Regions from separate parts of the Homo sapiens genome. Here regions 1 and 3 are each reported to be linked to region 2. The links are microRNA targets in miRTarBase. Many come from high-throughput screens and were not tested one by one. Region 2 holds a microRNA gene; each other region holds the end of a gene's coding sequence.
The links. The annotated mature microRNA hsa-miR-3116 reads UGCCUGGAACAUAGUAGGGACU and lies in region 2 at 1,813-1,834, opposite strand. An mRNA with a match to its seed (bases 2 to 7 or 8) in the 3' UTR can be bound and repressed. Matches are read on the target gene's strand: a 7mer-m8 pairs with bases 2 to 8, a 7mer-A1 pairs with bases 2 to 7 and ends in A, and an 8mer does both.

Region 1: miRTarBase lists RSL1D1 as a target of hsa-miR-3116. Seed matches in the 3' UTR shown: 7mer-A1 at 3,212-3,218.
Region 3: the mRNA of CDC14B is a reported target of hsa-miR-3116. Seed matches in the 3' UTR shown: 7mer-A1 at 3,156-3,162.

Annotation. Positions count from the first base shown.
Region 1 is chr16:11,833,481-11,838,555 of GRCh38, reverse strand. RSL1D1 (ribosomal L1 domain containing 1) reads left to right here. Exons shown (of 9, transcript NM_015659.3): 9 at 443-4,706. The coding sequence ends at 769. Among named protein-coding and RNA genes, the nearest start is that of BCAR4, 7.2 kb to the right of the region's middle. RefSeq lists a silencer at 1-119.
Region 2 is chr1:62,076,982-62,082,056 of GRCh38, forward strand. MIR3116-2 (microRNA 3116-2) reads right to left here and starts at 1,875; the gene lies at 1,808-1,875. PATJ (PATJ crumbs cell polarity complex component) reads left to right here. Exons shown (of 44, transcript NM_001350145.3): 32 at 2,469-2,586. MIR3116-1 (microRNA 3116-1) reads left to right here and starts at 1,805; the gene lies at 1,805-1,878.
Region 3 is chr9:96,499,045-96,504,119 of GRCh38, forward strand. CDC14B (cell division cycle 14B) reads right to left here. Exons shown (of 14, transcript NM_033331.4): 14 at 1,069-4,745. The coding sequence ends at 4,709. Among named protein-coding and RNA genes, the nearest start is that of HABP4, 51 kb to the left of the region's middle.

The sequences.
Region 1 (5,075 bases), not on the chromosome of region 2:
TACAGCTTATTTCTGTCATCATACTGAGGTGTACCTTTTGGGGGTTAACTAATAAAAACAGTAACTTGGCCATGCGCTGAAAAACAGTAACTTGGCCGGGCACAGTGGCTCACGCCTGTAATCCTAGCACTTTGGGAGGCCGAGGCAGGTGGATCACCTGAGGTCAGGAGTTCGAGACCAGCCTGGCTAACATGGTGAAACCCTGTTTCTACTAAAAATACAAAAAATGAGCCGGGCGTGGTGGCACACACCTATAATACCAGCTACTCGGGAGGCAGAGGTTGCAGTGAACTGAGATTGTGCCATTGCACTCTAGCATGGGCAGCAAGAGCGAAACTCAGTCTGAAAAATAAATAAATACAAATAAAAACAGTAACTCCTGGAGTTAGAGTGTCAGGTTTTGTGGCTTTTTCTATATTAAACTTACTTTTTTTTTTCTTAGATTCAAAAACATGCCACAGGAAAGAAGTCTCCAGCAAAGAGTCCTAATCCCAGCACACCTCGTGGGAAGAAAAGAAAGGCTTTGCCAGCATCTGAGACCCCAAAAGCTGCAGAGTCTGAGACCCCAGGGAAAAGCCCAGAGAAGAAGCCAAAAATCAAAGAAGAGGCAGTGAAGGAAAAAAGTCCTTCGCTGGGGAAAAAAGATGCGAGACAGACTCCAAAAAAGCCAGAGGCCAAGTTTTTCACCACTCCTAGTAAATCTGTGAGAAAAGCTTCCCACACCCCCAAAAAATGGCCCAAAAAACCCAAAGTACCCCAGTCGACCTAAAGTCAGTGATTCAACTGGAAGGAAACCTCAATGCTGCCTCCAGAGCTTTTTGGAAATACTCAGATCCTGGCCGCCTTTGTAACCTTCTCTAAACGTCAGGCCTGGACTTAAAAGATTTTTTAAAACCTCCATAAGTAGTCCAGGGGCGGTGGCTCACGCCTGTAATCCCAGCACTTTGGGAGGCCGAGGCAGGCGGATCACAAGGTCAACGAGATCGAGACCATCCTGGCCAACATGGTGAAACCCTGTCTGTACCAAAAATACAAAAATTAATTGGGCATGGTGGTGGACACCTGTAATCCCAGCTACTAGGGAGGCTGAGGCAGGAGAATTGCTTGAACCTGGGAGGCGGAGGTTGCAGTGAGCCACTGCACTCCAGCCTGATGACAGAGCAAGACTCAGTCTCAAAAATAAATAAAAATAATAAAACCTCCATAAGTAATCCTGACATATGTTCCTGGGTATAATCTGTTTCTAAATTGTCCTTCTGTGTATTTGCTAATGTAATAGAGGGAAAAATAGAGTGCTTCTCTGTGGTTGTTCAGCACTTTAGGTAGCCAAGGTGAGAGGATTGCTTGAGGCCAGGAGTTTGAGACTAGCCTGGGCAACTTGGTAAAACCCCATCTCTACAAAAGAAAAAAAAAAATTAGTGTGGCATGGTGGCATGCATCTGTGCTCCCAGCTCCTCACGAGGCTGAGGTGGAAGGATCAAGTGAGCGCAAGAGGTTGAGGCTCCAGTGAGCCACGATCACCCCACTGTGCTGTAGCCTGGGTGACAGTGTGAGATTCTGTCTCAGAAAAAACAAAGTATAACATTGCTTTGCTTCTGAGTATACTGTTGGCTTTCCAAATCAGTGGGTCTGACTTGAGGTCTGTGATGTGACCCTTTTCCTCACCTGCTCAACCATTATTCACATGGACTCCATCATATTCATTTGTAGTCATTCCCAGAGTGGCCCAGTGAGGGTCTCGCTGTATGAGAGTCGGCTACGGAATTTAGGAGAAACAGAAGTTTCTTGGCTTTCATGCTGAGCTTGTTGGTCTAAGCTTATGAGTCACTGGATTAGCATCCATATGGGAAGGGAAATTAACATGGAGTCATTTATACAGGGACTAAATTGAATCCTACCTACCGGAGGCAAGAACATGATTTATCTTCCATAAGCCTTATCCTCTTCCTCCTTATTCCTCAGTCCATATGGATTTGCTTATGTATGACAACTCCAAGGAATCTTGGAAGAGTAGATTGCTAACGTTTCCACAATTGTCAAGTATATTCTGAGGCAGTAAACACCTTTTTAGGTACGTGGCCTTTCACTGGTTGTGAATTGGTATGCATCCGTAGTAGTAAGTTCACAGATTCACTGCAGTGCAGGAATGTTCTTGCATGCCAAAGACTCAACTGCTTTCAAAGATAATGTGGGTGCTAGATGCAGTGGCTTACATCTGTAACCCTGTTAGGGTGACCAGACCCAACACCAGGTCGTGGGGGTGACAAAGTCCAGTGGAGTCAAAGGATTGAGAAAAAGACAGTTTGAGAGAGAAGTAGGACCAGCAGACCATCGGGATGGTGGAGGCTGTGAAGGCCGTGAGCTCTGGGAGCCCACACTATTTATTGGTAATCCAACAAAGAAACAGATGGTGAGAATGTGAAGGTCAGAAGGGCACCTTGCATTAAGCACATGATTTACAGCTGTGATGGTTTAGCATTTGCTCTGCTACTTGAGATGATGGAGAGCAGGTTCTTTTAACTCAAGTTACAGTCGATCCTGGGAGAGCAAGGAGCCAGCAAGTCTAGACATTCCAGAGCCACAGGCCCTGGATTTTATCCAAGCCACGAGGGATTTTATGCCCTGGGCTTAGATTATGGTGCGTCAGGGCAGCCTTCCACCCTTTAGCACAGAGCTTGGTGTTCCAAAGACCACAAGGGGTTTTAGACCCTTGACCCTGGACATATTCCAAGACTCTTTTACATTATGTCAGAATGCAAGCCCTGCCTCAGCTTCTCCCAACACTCAGCTTTTCGCAACATAATCCCAGCACTTTGGAACGCTGGGTGGATTGCTTGAACCCAGGAGTTCGAGACCATCCTGGGCAATATGGCAAAACCCCATCTTTACCAAAAATAAGCTGGGTGTGGTGGAACATGCCTGTGGTCCCAGCTTCTTGGGAGGCTGAGGTGGGAGGATTGCTTGAACCCGGGAGGTAGAGGCTGCAATGGGCCATGATCACGATCCTGCACTCCAGCCTGGGCAACAGAGAGAGACAGTCCCTGGCCCACTGCCCCCTTCCCTGGCCCAGTCTCAAAAAAAATGAGGCTGGGCGTGGTGGCTCACATCTGTAATCCCAGCCAAGGCTGGCAGATCACTTGAGGCCAGGAGTTCTGAGACCAGCCTGGCTTACATGGTGAAACCCCATCTCTACTAAAAATACAAAAACTAGCCAGGCATGGTGGGAGGCACCTGTAATCCCAGCTACTTGGGAGGCTGAAGCAGGAGAATCACTTTAACCCGGGAGGTGGAGGTTGCAGTGAGCTGAGATCACACCACTGCACTCCAGCCTGGGCGGCAGAGCAAAACTGAAAAAAAGAGAAAAAAAAAAACATCTAGCTCTCCCTGAAATTAGAGGAGTCTAGCCTGCTTTTGCTGTTTTTTTGGTAGCGAGAGTAGCGGGCAGTGGGGGAGATGGTCTTACTCTGTTCCCCAGGCTGGAGTGCACTAGTGTCATCACAGCTCCAGCCTCAATTTCCTGGGCTCAAGGCGATCTTCCCACCTCAGCCTCCCAAGTAGCTCAGACTACAGGGGCATGCCATCACAGCTGGCCAGTTTTTACGTCTTGCGTAGAGATGGGTTTTCCCTGTGTTCCCTAGGCTGGGCTCGAACTCCTGGGCTCAAGTCCTCCTGCCTCAGCCTCCCAAAATGTTCAGATTACAGGCATGAGGCAGCATGCCAATCCTGTTTTTGCATTTTAGTAACACAAATTGTAATGTTAACTTTTTAAATTATGAAAGCATCTAAAATATAAAATTATTTGTAACCCCACTGTCCTTTTGGGCTTCTATAAATGAATATACATCTAAAATGTGGGGGTTTAGCTTAATTGATTGTTTTCCATAGAAACTAGGTTTTATGGGAAGATGGTTGGATAGACTTGTTTCACTTAAAGGTCTGGTTTGTGTAGGACAAACCCACATATGTAATCGTGCCAGTCTGTTCTCTGCATGACATAATTTTCCAGCAATAGCTGTGTGGTTTTTGTAATCCTATCATCTAGTCAGTTCAAGATCTTGCAACACTGTGTGATTCTTTGCTCCGTAGTTCAGTCTTGTTGAACATGACACAGGTGTTTACTTTCCTGTTCTTGCATCTAGTTTCATTCTAATAATGTTCTCTGTTGAAAAAGCTGGCTTCAATTTATTGAGCAAGATGCTGGTGTTATCATCTAACATAAAACCTATCTTATAATAAAGTGTTGACACATGTAATGAGTACTGTACTGAAAAATGGTGGTATGTATATGGTTTGTACTGATTATGTATCGCTTTTATACCATCAAAAAGTTGAAAAATCATAAAGTTGAATCATCCTAAAATGGGTACATTCTGTACTATGTTTCCAAGGCTTCAGAAGTGTTGCATACACATTCCTAGCCAGCTGATAGTGCTAGGAGCCAACAGTAGTCTCCCCCGGGGGCCAAGAGGAGGGCGAAATCTCTACTATGGTATATGATGTTCTCGTGGGCCAAGTATGAGGGTGATATTTCATTGTTGGCACTGGGTTTCTGGAATCCATCCTCTTCACCAGGGAGATTTAATGAACCAAATGAGATCTGATGGGAGAAATTTGAGTGTAACGTTTTTGTTCTGAAGGAAGTAATTGAGTTTTAGTTCATTTGTTTTTTAGGAATCGTAATAATTAAAATTTCATTTTAAATGCCATGAATGTATTTAAGTCAATCCAACTGTATAATAAACACCACATTGTGGCTGGGCACGGTGGCTCACGCCTGTAATCCCAGCAATTTGGGAGGCTGAAGTGGGCAGATCACCTGAGGTTGGGAGTTCAAAACCAGCCTGCCCAACATGGCAAAACCTTGTCTCTACTAAAAATACAAAAATTAGCCGATACGGTAGTGGACATCTGTAATCCCAGCTACTCAAGAGGCTGAGGCAGGATCCGTCTCAAAAAAAAAAAAAAAAAGTCCAGGCGTGGTGGCTTACACCTGTAATCCCAGCACTTTGAGAAGCCAAGGCAGGTGGATCACGAGGTCAGGAGATCGAGACCATCCTGGCTCGATCTGTACTAAA
Region 2 (5,075 bases):
GTGTCAGAGACCCAAGCACCTCTTATCTGATTACTATACCATTCTTATTTGATTACTCTACCACCCTCAAATGGTGGCATCCATTCTTTAGTTTAAGAGGGCTGCTTCAGTTATTACCAACACATCTGTATTCCAAGCAGTGAGAAGGGAAAGACAGGATCTTTCTCCTTAGGAGAATGACCTAAAAATTGTACATTCACTTCTGTTTACATCCCATTGACCAGGACTTAGCCTGTTGGCACACCTACCTTCAATGAGGCTAGTAAATGTGGTCCTTAGAATAATTGGATATCTAAGTCCTCTCAATGTTGTTTTCTTATAGTAACCCCTTATTTGTCCTTTTCTACTTTCTTCCTTTAAAAATCACTGATAAATATGTAATTGAAAAAGTCTCTTTTTAGTCAATATTAAATGATGCTGATAGTGGCGGGGCACAGTGGCTCATGCCTGTAATCCCAGCACTCTGAGATGCTGAGGTGGGTGGATTGCTTGAGTCCAGGAGTTCGAGACCAGCCTGGGCAACATAGCAAAACTCCATCTTTACTAAAAATACAAAAAATTAGCCAGGCGTGGTGGTGTGCGCCTGTAATCCCAGGTATTCAGGAGGCTGAGGTGGGAGAATCACCTGAGCCCAGGACATCAAGGCTTCAGTGAGCCGAGATCACACAACTATTACAGCCTAGGTGACAGAGTGAGACCCTGTCCAAAAAAAAAAAAAAAAGAAGATGGTGATAGAAAAACTGCAGGAAAAAACAAAAAAACTCCATAGAATCATTGCCTATCAGCTGTTTGATAAACACTTTAAGCTTGTAGCATTCTTCAACTATTGACTTCCGGTTCTACCTCTTTCTCTAATTAGCAGTGTGATTTCAAATATGTCACTTGACATTTATGCTTGGTTTTCTGCAAAAAGAAAAAAAGTAATATTTAACTGTCGGGGTTGTTCATGTGATTGAATGAATTTATGGATGTAAAAGTGTTTTGAAAACTAGAAAGCACAGTGCATATGCACAATGGATGGTATTGTTTTGTTGTTACTGCACACTGCACAATGCCCTGTATTGAGGCACAGCTTTCCACTGACAGAATCTTGAGGTGTTACAGTTCTGGAGCAGTTACCTTGGTCCTATTTCTAGACTCCAGGGGCAACCTGGTGCTTCACTACCAGACTCTTCCAGCTGGGGATGGGTTCCCTGGCCAACTGCAGATCCAGAAGGCAGGTCAGGTTACTACCTATATTTCTTAACTGCCTGTTAAATAAGCAAGGAGTCCTTTTGGTTTTTCTTAGTGTATGTATGTATGTATGTATTTATTTTTGGAGACGGAGTTTCATTCTTGTTGCCCAGGCTGGAGTGCAATGGCACGGTCTCAGCTCACTGCAACCTCTGCCTCCTGGGTTCAAGCAATTCTCCTGCCTCAGCCTCCCAAGTAGCTGGGATTACAGGCATGCATCACCACGCCTGGCTAATTTTTGTATTTTTTTCAGTAGAGATGGGGTTTCACCATGTTAGCCAGGCTGGTCTCGAACTCCTGATGTCAGGTGATCTGCCCATCTCAGCCTCCCAAAGTGCTGGGTTTACAGGCGTGAGCCACCATGCCTGGCCCCTTAGTTTTTTAATATTAATATTCATTGGAGGTACTGTCAGCAAAAATCCAGAATTACAAGTTAATTTTTCCCAAACTCACACAGTAGAGGTCCCTGTACCTTCACTGAATTGCAAGTTCACTTTCTACCCTGAGTTACTCATGTCTTCAGTTTTGCTTTTCTTTGTTCTTTCTTTCTTGTTCATTCATTCATCAAGCACTTTATTGAGTCCCTACTATGTTCCAGGCACTGGGTATCGTAGGTGCCTGGAACATAGTAGGGACTCAATAAAGGAGCTATGCTTCCTTTATGTGAATTAAATGTCACTGATGTAGCTGGCATTTAGTAGGCTTTCAGTAGGTGTTGGTTTTCTTTGTCTGCCCCTCATTTTGCTTAATTAACCTACCAAATGCATCTTTGACTCTAGTGTGTCCAGAAGAAATGGACAGTGTTGATGCTCTAAACATCCCCAGCGTAGATTGTTTTTCAATGTGCACAACACAGATAAGTCACTTCAAAGTCCATAGATAAAGGGGCTTCTTGCTGATTTCATCAGAATGAGTAGAAATTGCAAGATAATTTTTGTTTTGCCTCCCACCCCCAGCTTCATGTACAGATCACACTGACAGAGTATCTTCAGCTTTTATCTTTCCTCCCTTCCTTGATCTGCCCTTCATCAAAGCATTTTAGTTGTAAAGTTAAATAGGGAAGAATGAGGAACGAGGCATAAATCATCCTAACTTCTTGCCACCCTCCAACCTTATATTCTCAAAAGACATCATTGGACTGCACCATTGTTTTGGTAACAATACACCAGTTTTAAAGTATTTTCTTGTTACCTTTCTCCTTTTTGATATTCATCTAATTTTCCTTTCTTTTGTAGGCTGTCAGCCAGATGAAACAGCAAAAATATCCAACAAAAGTCTCCTTCAGTTCACAAGAGATACCATTAGCACCAGCTTCATCATACCATTCAACAGATGCAGACTTCACAGGCTATGGTATGATTCTTTCTCTCAGCAGATCTGGCTCATTAAGCCTTAGAGAAGGCAAGGGATCATAATGTCCTAAAACGAGAACTGGACCAGGAGGCAGAAGTCTGACTCTGGATACTTCCTCCGCTTCCTTAGCTTTGGGGCTTGGATAGGTCACTTCATTTCCTACATCATTTTTCCTCCTCTCTGCCATCGCCATTGCCTGTTGCTTTTTGAATATAAGAGCACTAGAACAGAACAGGACCTCAGTAGGTCAGGAGTTCAAGACCAGCCTGGCCAACATGGTGAAACCCTGTCTCTACTAAAAATACGAAAAATTAGCCAGGCATGGTGGCGCATGCCTGTAATCCCAGCTACTCGGGAGGCTGAGGCAGGAGAATCGCCTGAACCCAGGAGGCAGAAGTTGCAGTAAGCTGAGATTGCACCACTGCACTCCAGCCTGGGTGACAGAGTGAGACTCTGTCTCAAAAAAAAAAAAAAGGAAAAGAAAAGGACCTCAGTAAATGTTATTTGAATCTGAGGCTTCTGTATTATTCTTCTCTAATCTCTACAAAAGATTATATTTAGGTCTTGAGTAATATCTCTTTAAAAATCCTATCAAACCCAATTTTTAGCCCTGCAAATGTTGCTTTAAGCTGTTTGAAGAATGTTGATTTTCAATGCTTAAAGAAATTGGCATGCACATTCTGTCTTTAAATTCCTGGCTTGAATTATGCTGACTGGGGGTTGAAAATAGAACTTTATAAAGAATAATAGGTATTTCTACTTGCTTTTTTTTCTTTTTTTTTGAGACAGAGTCTCATTCTGTCACCCAGGCTGGAGGGCAGGGGGCTGATCTCAGCTCACTGCAACCTCTGCCTCCTGGGTTCAAGTGATTCTCCTGCCTCGGCCTCCTGAGTAGCTGGGATTACAGGTGCTCACCACCATGCCCGGCTAATTTTTACATTTTTAGTAGAGATGGGGTTTCACCATGTTGGCCAGGCTGGTCTCAAACTCTTGACCTCAAGTGATCTGCCTGCCTCGGCCTCCAAAAGTGCTGGGATTACAGACGTGAGCCACTGTGCCCAGCCCTACTTTGCTTTTGTGCAGTATACATCAGTAAAAAATAAAACTCTTTAAAAGACAGTACTCACCAATGGCAAAGCATAACCCTGCATTAATTTAGCAGTTCTGAAATCTTTGTGGTATTTGCCTTTTATATATTTTTTCATAAATATTAACTTCATAAAGTTCATCAAGCAGGTACTATTTTAAAGCATTGTAGATGTACTAAAACATTTGATGCATGTGGTCAGAAAACTATGGCGCATGGGTCAAATCTGGCCTACCAGCTAGTTGTGTATGGTCTACAAGCTAAAAAAGGTGTTCACTTTTTAAAGGTTGAAAAAACACCTAAGAAAATTTTATTAAAATATTCTATGAAATTCATATTTCAGTGTCCACAAATACAGGTTTATAGACACTCATTTGTTTCTGTATTGTCAGTGGCTTTTTTCACACTATAATGATGGAGTTAAGTAGTCACAACAGAGACAGTCTGGCCTGTAATGCCCTATTAAAATATGTATACTTGGCACTTTACCAACAATGCATGCTGACTATGGAGGTAGACAAGTTGAGTTTTGGTAATATATATCACATATTTATACTTAGATGACAGAAATTCAGCATCCTTCCTGGTTTTCATTCTCATGGTTAAATAATAAATAAACAAATAAATAAATAAATGAAGTTCATCATCCTACAGTTGAATCTATAGAAATTTTATTCATTTACTCATCTACTTACCAAGCATTTATTGAGGACTTGGTATGAGCTGGGTTTGGGGCTGGATTCCATGAGAGAAGTAAATAAAAAGATTGACTCAGGACTGGCTAGGGTGAGGCAAACGTGGAGGAGGGAAAAGAAATGCCATCTCCAGGATGTCTCACCAGGTTTTTTTCTCTCTTCTCACTCAGGAGACTACGCTAGTCATTTACAAAGGCAGTATAAACTTTTTATTTACTTATCTATTTATTTATTTGAGATGGAGTTTTGCTCTTGTTGCCCAGGCTGGAGTGCAATGGTGTGATCTCGGCTCACTGCAACCTCTGCCTCCTGGGTTCAAGTGATTCTCCTGCCTTAGCCTTCCTAGTAGTTGGGATTACAGGCATGTGCCACCATGCCTGGCTAATTTTGTATTTTTAGTAGAGACAGGGTTTCACCATGTTGGTCAGGCTGGTATCAAACTCCTGAACTCAGGTGATCCGCCCACCTCAGCCTCCCAAAGTGCTGAGGTTACAGGCGTGAGCCACCGCACCCGACCTAAAAGCAATAGAAACTTTTTAAAGCACCCATGAAAGTGTGCCACTATCGTACGTCATTTTTATTGTAAATTAATGGGAAATGTGGTATAAAATACATATGCTGCAAAAAGATTTAAAGACAAATTTGGTTTACAATTTAATATTCTGCCTTGCCTGTATCTTACCTAGAGCCTTTCTTTTTGTCTTATT
Region 3 (5,075 bases), not on the chromosome of region 2:
TCACGGAGCTGCGTGGTGGCGCCAGCTGCCTGAGCTCTAGTGGGTCAGGGGAGAGCTCTAGTGGCCTCAGGGGAAGCCATGGAGGGGCAGGGAGAGGCCACAGCTCCCACAGAGCCAGGGTCTGCAAATGAACACTCTGGGGGGTCATGTGTGGTGTGGAGTCGGGAGAGGGGCGAGAAGGCAGGTCTCTGGTTTTTACTTTGGACACTTGTAACCCAGTGTGAATCCAAGCACAGCTCCTTGGGGGAACTGGGTAGAACTCGACAGAACACAGGGTCTTGAGTCTCAGCAGTAAGCTGTGTGTGAGGTGTGGACACTGAGCCCTTGGGGTCCTGCCCGGCACCAGAGGCAAGGCAGGTAGAAAGCAGGGGTCTGGCGTCCGGGGTTGGACCACAAGCTGGGGAGGGTGCTGGGGCCGGTGCCGCCCGACCTTGGCAGGCAAAATGCCCTGCAGGATCCCAAGAGCCTGACTGACTTAAGTCTTATCTTTAGAGGTCTGCAGAAAGTCAAAACTTTGTGTTGTGTGAGCTGGTGCTGGGGTGTGAGGAATGGCCTGGCAGCAGGAGCCCCCTGTCACTCACCACCTTACCCTACAGAAGGGGGCTGGACTAACTTCCAGATTCAAACACTAAAGCCCTAACCCCAGCCCCTTCAGATGTGGCTCTATGTGGACATGGGGACTTTAACGACGTGGTGAAGTTAAAATGAGGCCATCGGGGTAAGCCCCAATCCAATCTGACTGGTGTCCTCTTGAGAGGGGAGTAGAGGGGAAGAGAGGCACCAGGGCCACGCAGGCACCAAAGAGAGGCCCTGCGAGGAGGCAGCGCCTCCAAGCCCAGGAGAGAGGCCTTGGGAGAAACCAAGCCCGCCCACAGCTTGGTCGTGGACTTGCAGCCTCCAGAACTGTGAGGAAATGAACTTCTGTGTCAGCCACCCAGTCTGGGGTATTCCATTATGGCCGTCCTAGAAAACTTACACAGATTCCGGGTTACCTCTGCTTTATGATCTAACCCACTGCCTACCAGAATTCAAAATGCTTGGTAAGTAACACAATAAACAAAAAGGCTGTTGGGTTAATACTTTTAATTACATGATTGTAATTATACAATTTCCACTATTCGATATTTTGTATAAAACCAGTTACAACCCACAAGATTTTCAAATGTGACAATATGTATCAAACTACATACATATGCAAAGTTTACACGCCATTAGGAAGCTTTATCTTAAAAATACCTTCAGGAAAATAAACATTCATTCAACCAGTTCTCTTGGCTTTAAAAAATATGATTAGAAATATACGCTGTAAAAAAAAATCAAGACAATGATTGATCAATACTGATCAGTTACATTTTAAAACTTTTAATAATCTGTACATGAGTGCAGGTTAGATAAAAGTCTGCAAATTATTAATAGAAAACTGCAGTACTATCATCGGATGAACATGTCTGCTGACAATTCTACCAGGTAATTAAGGAGGTAATTTCCTACACAGTATAGGTGAATTGTCCAGTCTTTAAACACATCTGGAGTCATCTCCACTGAGTGACATGGAGAATAACCTGATGTGGGTAAATGGAAGAGCAGCAGATAGCCTCTCCAGGGCAGTTTCAGCGGGAGAGAACATTTAAAGGAACAATAAAATAGGTTTTAAAAGTTGCTTTTGATGAGCACTGCTTTCCAAAATGCAATAATGATTTTTTTTAATGTAGAAAGAGAAGCTGTGTTAAGAACAGACATCCAATGAGTGCACTGCTTCTGTGGCTCCAAAGGTGACTGGGAAAAGAGAAGGCCCCAGGAGAGCCCTCAGGCCACACACAAGCCCAGGCCATCCCGCCCAGCCCAGCGAGCACACTGGCCTCATAACAATGCTTGGGAACTCCTCTAAAACTTGCCTAGGCCCAAGAAAACAGAGAGGTAGCAATCACCCCTGTGAGAGGGCTAGAGAGGAGGGGAGGAAGTAGGTAGGGGACAGGCTAGGGGCATCAAGCTCAGAACAGGGGAATTCTGGAGGCCGCAGAGCTGCGTGCTGCCGGGAAGCACTGGCCACGCCAGGCCATTCTGCTCTCACGAGGCGCTGCTCCTCACCAAATTCTACAAAAAGCTAAGTCCGTCTATACTTCTAGGAACCCAGTTTTGCAGACGCTCTTCCTCCGGACTGTCCCTGACTTTTGATAATTTTGAGTCCCCAGAAAGCTTCAAGAGCACCTAAAAATATTCACTTCCAATTTTAATTCCATCGCAAACCGTCCCAGTGTACTTTCAGGGCTATTTAAGGCTCTTAGGTTAAGGGGATCTCTCCATCTGACACACAGTTTCATGTTCCATAGCAACAAGGTCTTCTATAACAACGACTCTAAGTCAGAATTCCAGAAGATTCTGGTTGTTTGTGGTTTCAGTTGGGGGTGAGGGGAAGAGTCCACTCTCATTCATAGCAGGAAGAACTTTCCATCCCTCAGACCCAGAGACTTCCTGGATGCTAGAGACAGTCCTCATAAGTGTAACACTGCCCTTGCTATGCACACCATCCCAAGTCATTTGGTTATTACAAGGAATGCCTCTTCACCAAATCACAAGTTTTCTATGACTAATTTCAGTGAACCAGTTAAATAGAAAGATTTTTAGAAAGAGCCACAGTGATAGCAATTCTAGGTGGAAACTTGAGCAGGCAACATGAAGAGGCAGTTTATAAAATGAAAAAGGGCTGTGGTTCCAGTGACACCCTTTCTTTTCTTGGACGAAACACCAGGAGGCTCATTCACCGTGAGGGAGACAGTACTCACAAGAGCTGTGGCGCCTACGTTTACTTGTTCTGATGGGATGAAAAGCCAAACTAAGAAGGGATCAGATAGAAGCACGATTTTCACAACTACCTGGATTATTATTAATGGAGGGGATGGCCTTAAAAGGGGTAAGGGGAAGAAGAGGTGCCCTGAGAATTCAATGCTTTATGCATGGCACAGTTTGAATATTTATATTGTCTCAGCTCAAAATAGCAAAAGGAATGTTCCTCCTCCCACCCAAATCTTATTGAAGAGTAGTCTGCCCACAGCCAAGTGGGTCTTTGTGCCTATTCATTTCCAGGGACAGAAAACCACTGTTTTTCTGTGATCCAGTCCCCAGTGTTTAAAAGCTGGCCTGACCCCACCCGACAGTGCCTGGCGGGGAAAGAGTTGCTTGTTTGGCTGAGAACACGGCATCTTCCGTCTCTCATGATGCCGGTCAATTTTATACTTTCTTCCAAGAAAGTACACCAAAATGGAGGCACTGCCTTTCAATTACTTTTTGCATTAAAGACTTTTAACTTGTTTATTCCAACCGCTTTTATTTCTTCCAGTTTTGTGAAAAAGGCAGCTTCTTAAAATGGAGTTGCCTACTAATCTGGCGCACGCCTTGTGGCTTAGGAGGGCATTTGTTTCCCACTGCCTGTCGACATCTCAGCCCTCCATGCTCCCGGCACAGGCAAAAATGGCTTAACAATCATTAAACCACCCACTTCTTATGGAAGGAACTGAGGTGAGTACTATATATTCTTTTATTTCGGGCCCCATTTTTTTTTTTTTTTTTAGCAGCACATCAATTCTGTTTCTGTAACTGCTTCATGGCACAGACTCTGCTGTGTTCCAGTAGGGCTGCGGGAGAAGGCACTCTGCAGAGTTACTAGTTGTGTTCCCTAACCAAAGGCAACAGTGAGATCCAGAAGCAGATCATTGTCACTGAGATCGCAGGCCACGTCAATGGCCTTAGGTGGATCTCATAAGGGAAAAAAAAAATCCAATGTTACAGGGAAGGACTCTAAAAAAGTGGTAACTTTTTTTTTTTGTAAGCCGACATTATTTGGGATTGCTGTTTCCAAGGGGAAAAACCAATAGTGTGTTTCTTCCATTCATGGAAGGAAATATGATTTTAATTTGTATGACTGGCAACCAAACAATGGGCAGCCTCCCAGTTCTTCAGTCCCTGAAGGACAGAAAAAGGAACGACTTGCAACATCTTCCAACTCTGAAGTCAGTTTCTCCTCCTGAGTCTTCTAAAGCTACCATTAATATTCTCTTGCAAGTTTTAGGTTACTAAGGTACCACCTGGTCTTACAACATGCAACAGTGTTTAAATGTGATTTTCACAGATTCTTGTTAATAAAGCACTCTTTGGTGGAAGACAAGCAGCTTGGGTACTTAACAGAGTTAACATTACAACAGTATTACAAATAGTCAAGTGAAGATGATTAAGCCAAATAGTATCAAATTACAGAAAGTACCATTTCAGTAATGCCTTTTGTATCTTTATAAATTTTGACACAGGGTCACAAGGTGAACAGAAAATAAATACATAAAAAACCTCCATCAGATCCTCAATTCTTCTGAAGGCCAGCAACTACAATGATTGCCATCACAGGGACACACATGCACCACAGACCAGCCAGCTCCCTGGGTACCAGAGGGCTTGGGTATTTACACCTGAGACTAAATTTACAACAGCATGTTTGTCATTCAGCTTGAGAGCTGGACCCTTCTCTGAGTCATTTGCTTGCACCCAAACTCAAAGTTCATTATTCAAACTCCAGTGGACATTTTCTCCATTGATCAACTTCTTAGGTGGAAAAAGCAACTAAGGCTTTTGCAATTTTGTTTTGTTTTCAAATTGTGCTAATTTCTGTTGCAGTTTTCAGTCCTAGAGTCTTCCTTCAGCTCTGGTCACAGGTTTTTACTTAACGCAAGACTGTTTTAGTCCTTGAAATGGAGAGACTACAGGGGGAAAAAAAAGGATTTTTACCAGAAAGTTTACACAGCGTCCACAGGCAGTTATCAAAGACAAGGAGGGCAACATAATAAAAATACTGACATGCTAAAAAGTATACGCTTGCTGTAAGTTTCTAATGACAAATACTTTGGAGAAGACAACACAATATCAACCACAAAGGAAAGACAAACAGGAGAAAGGCAGGGCAGAAAAAGGCTCAGTTCTGCAAAAAATAGAAATTTAAAAAAACCAATACGAGTAAATAAAAATCATAAAAGACGGACGGGCAGGGGCAGCAGGGCCAGGAAAGTACCATGACGCCGCCAGGGGCACGT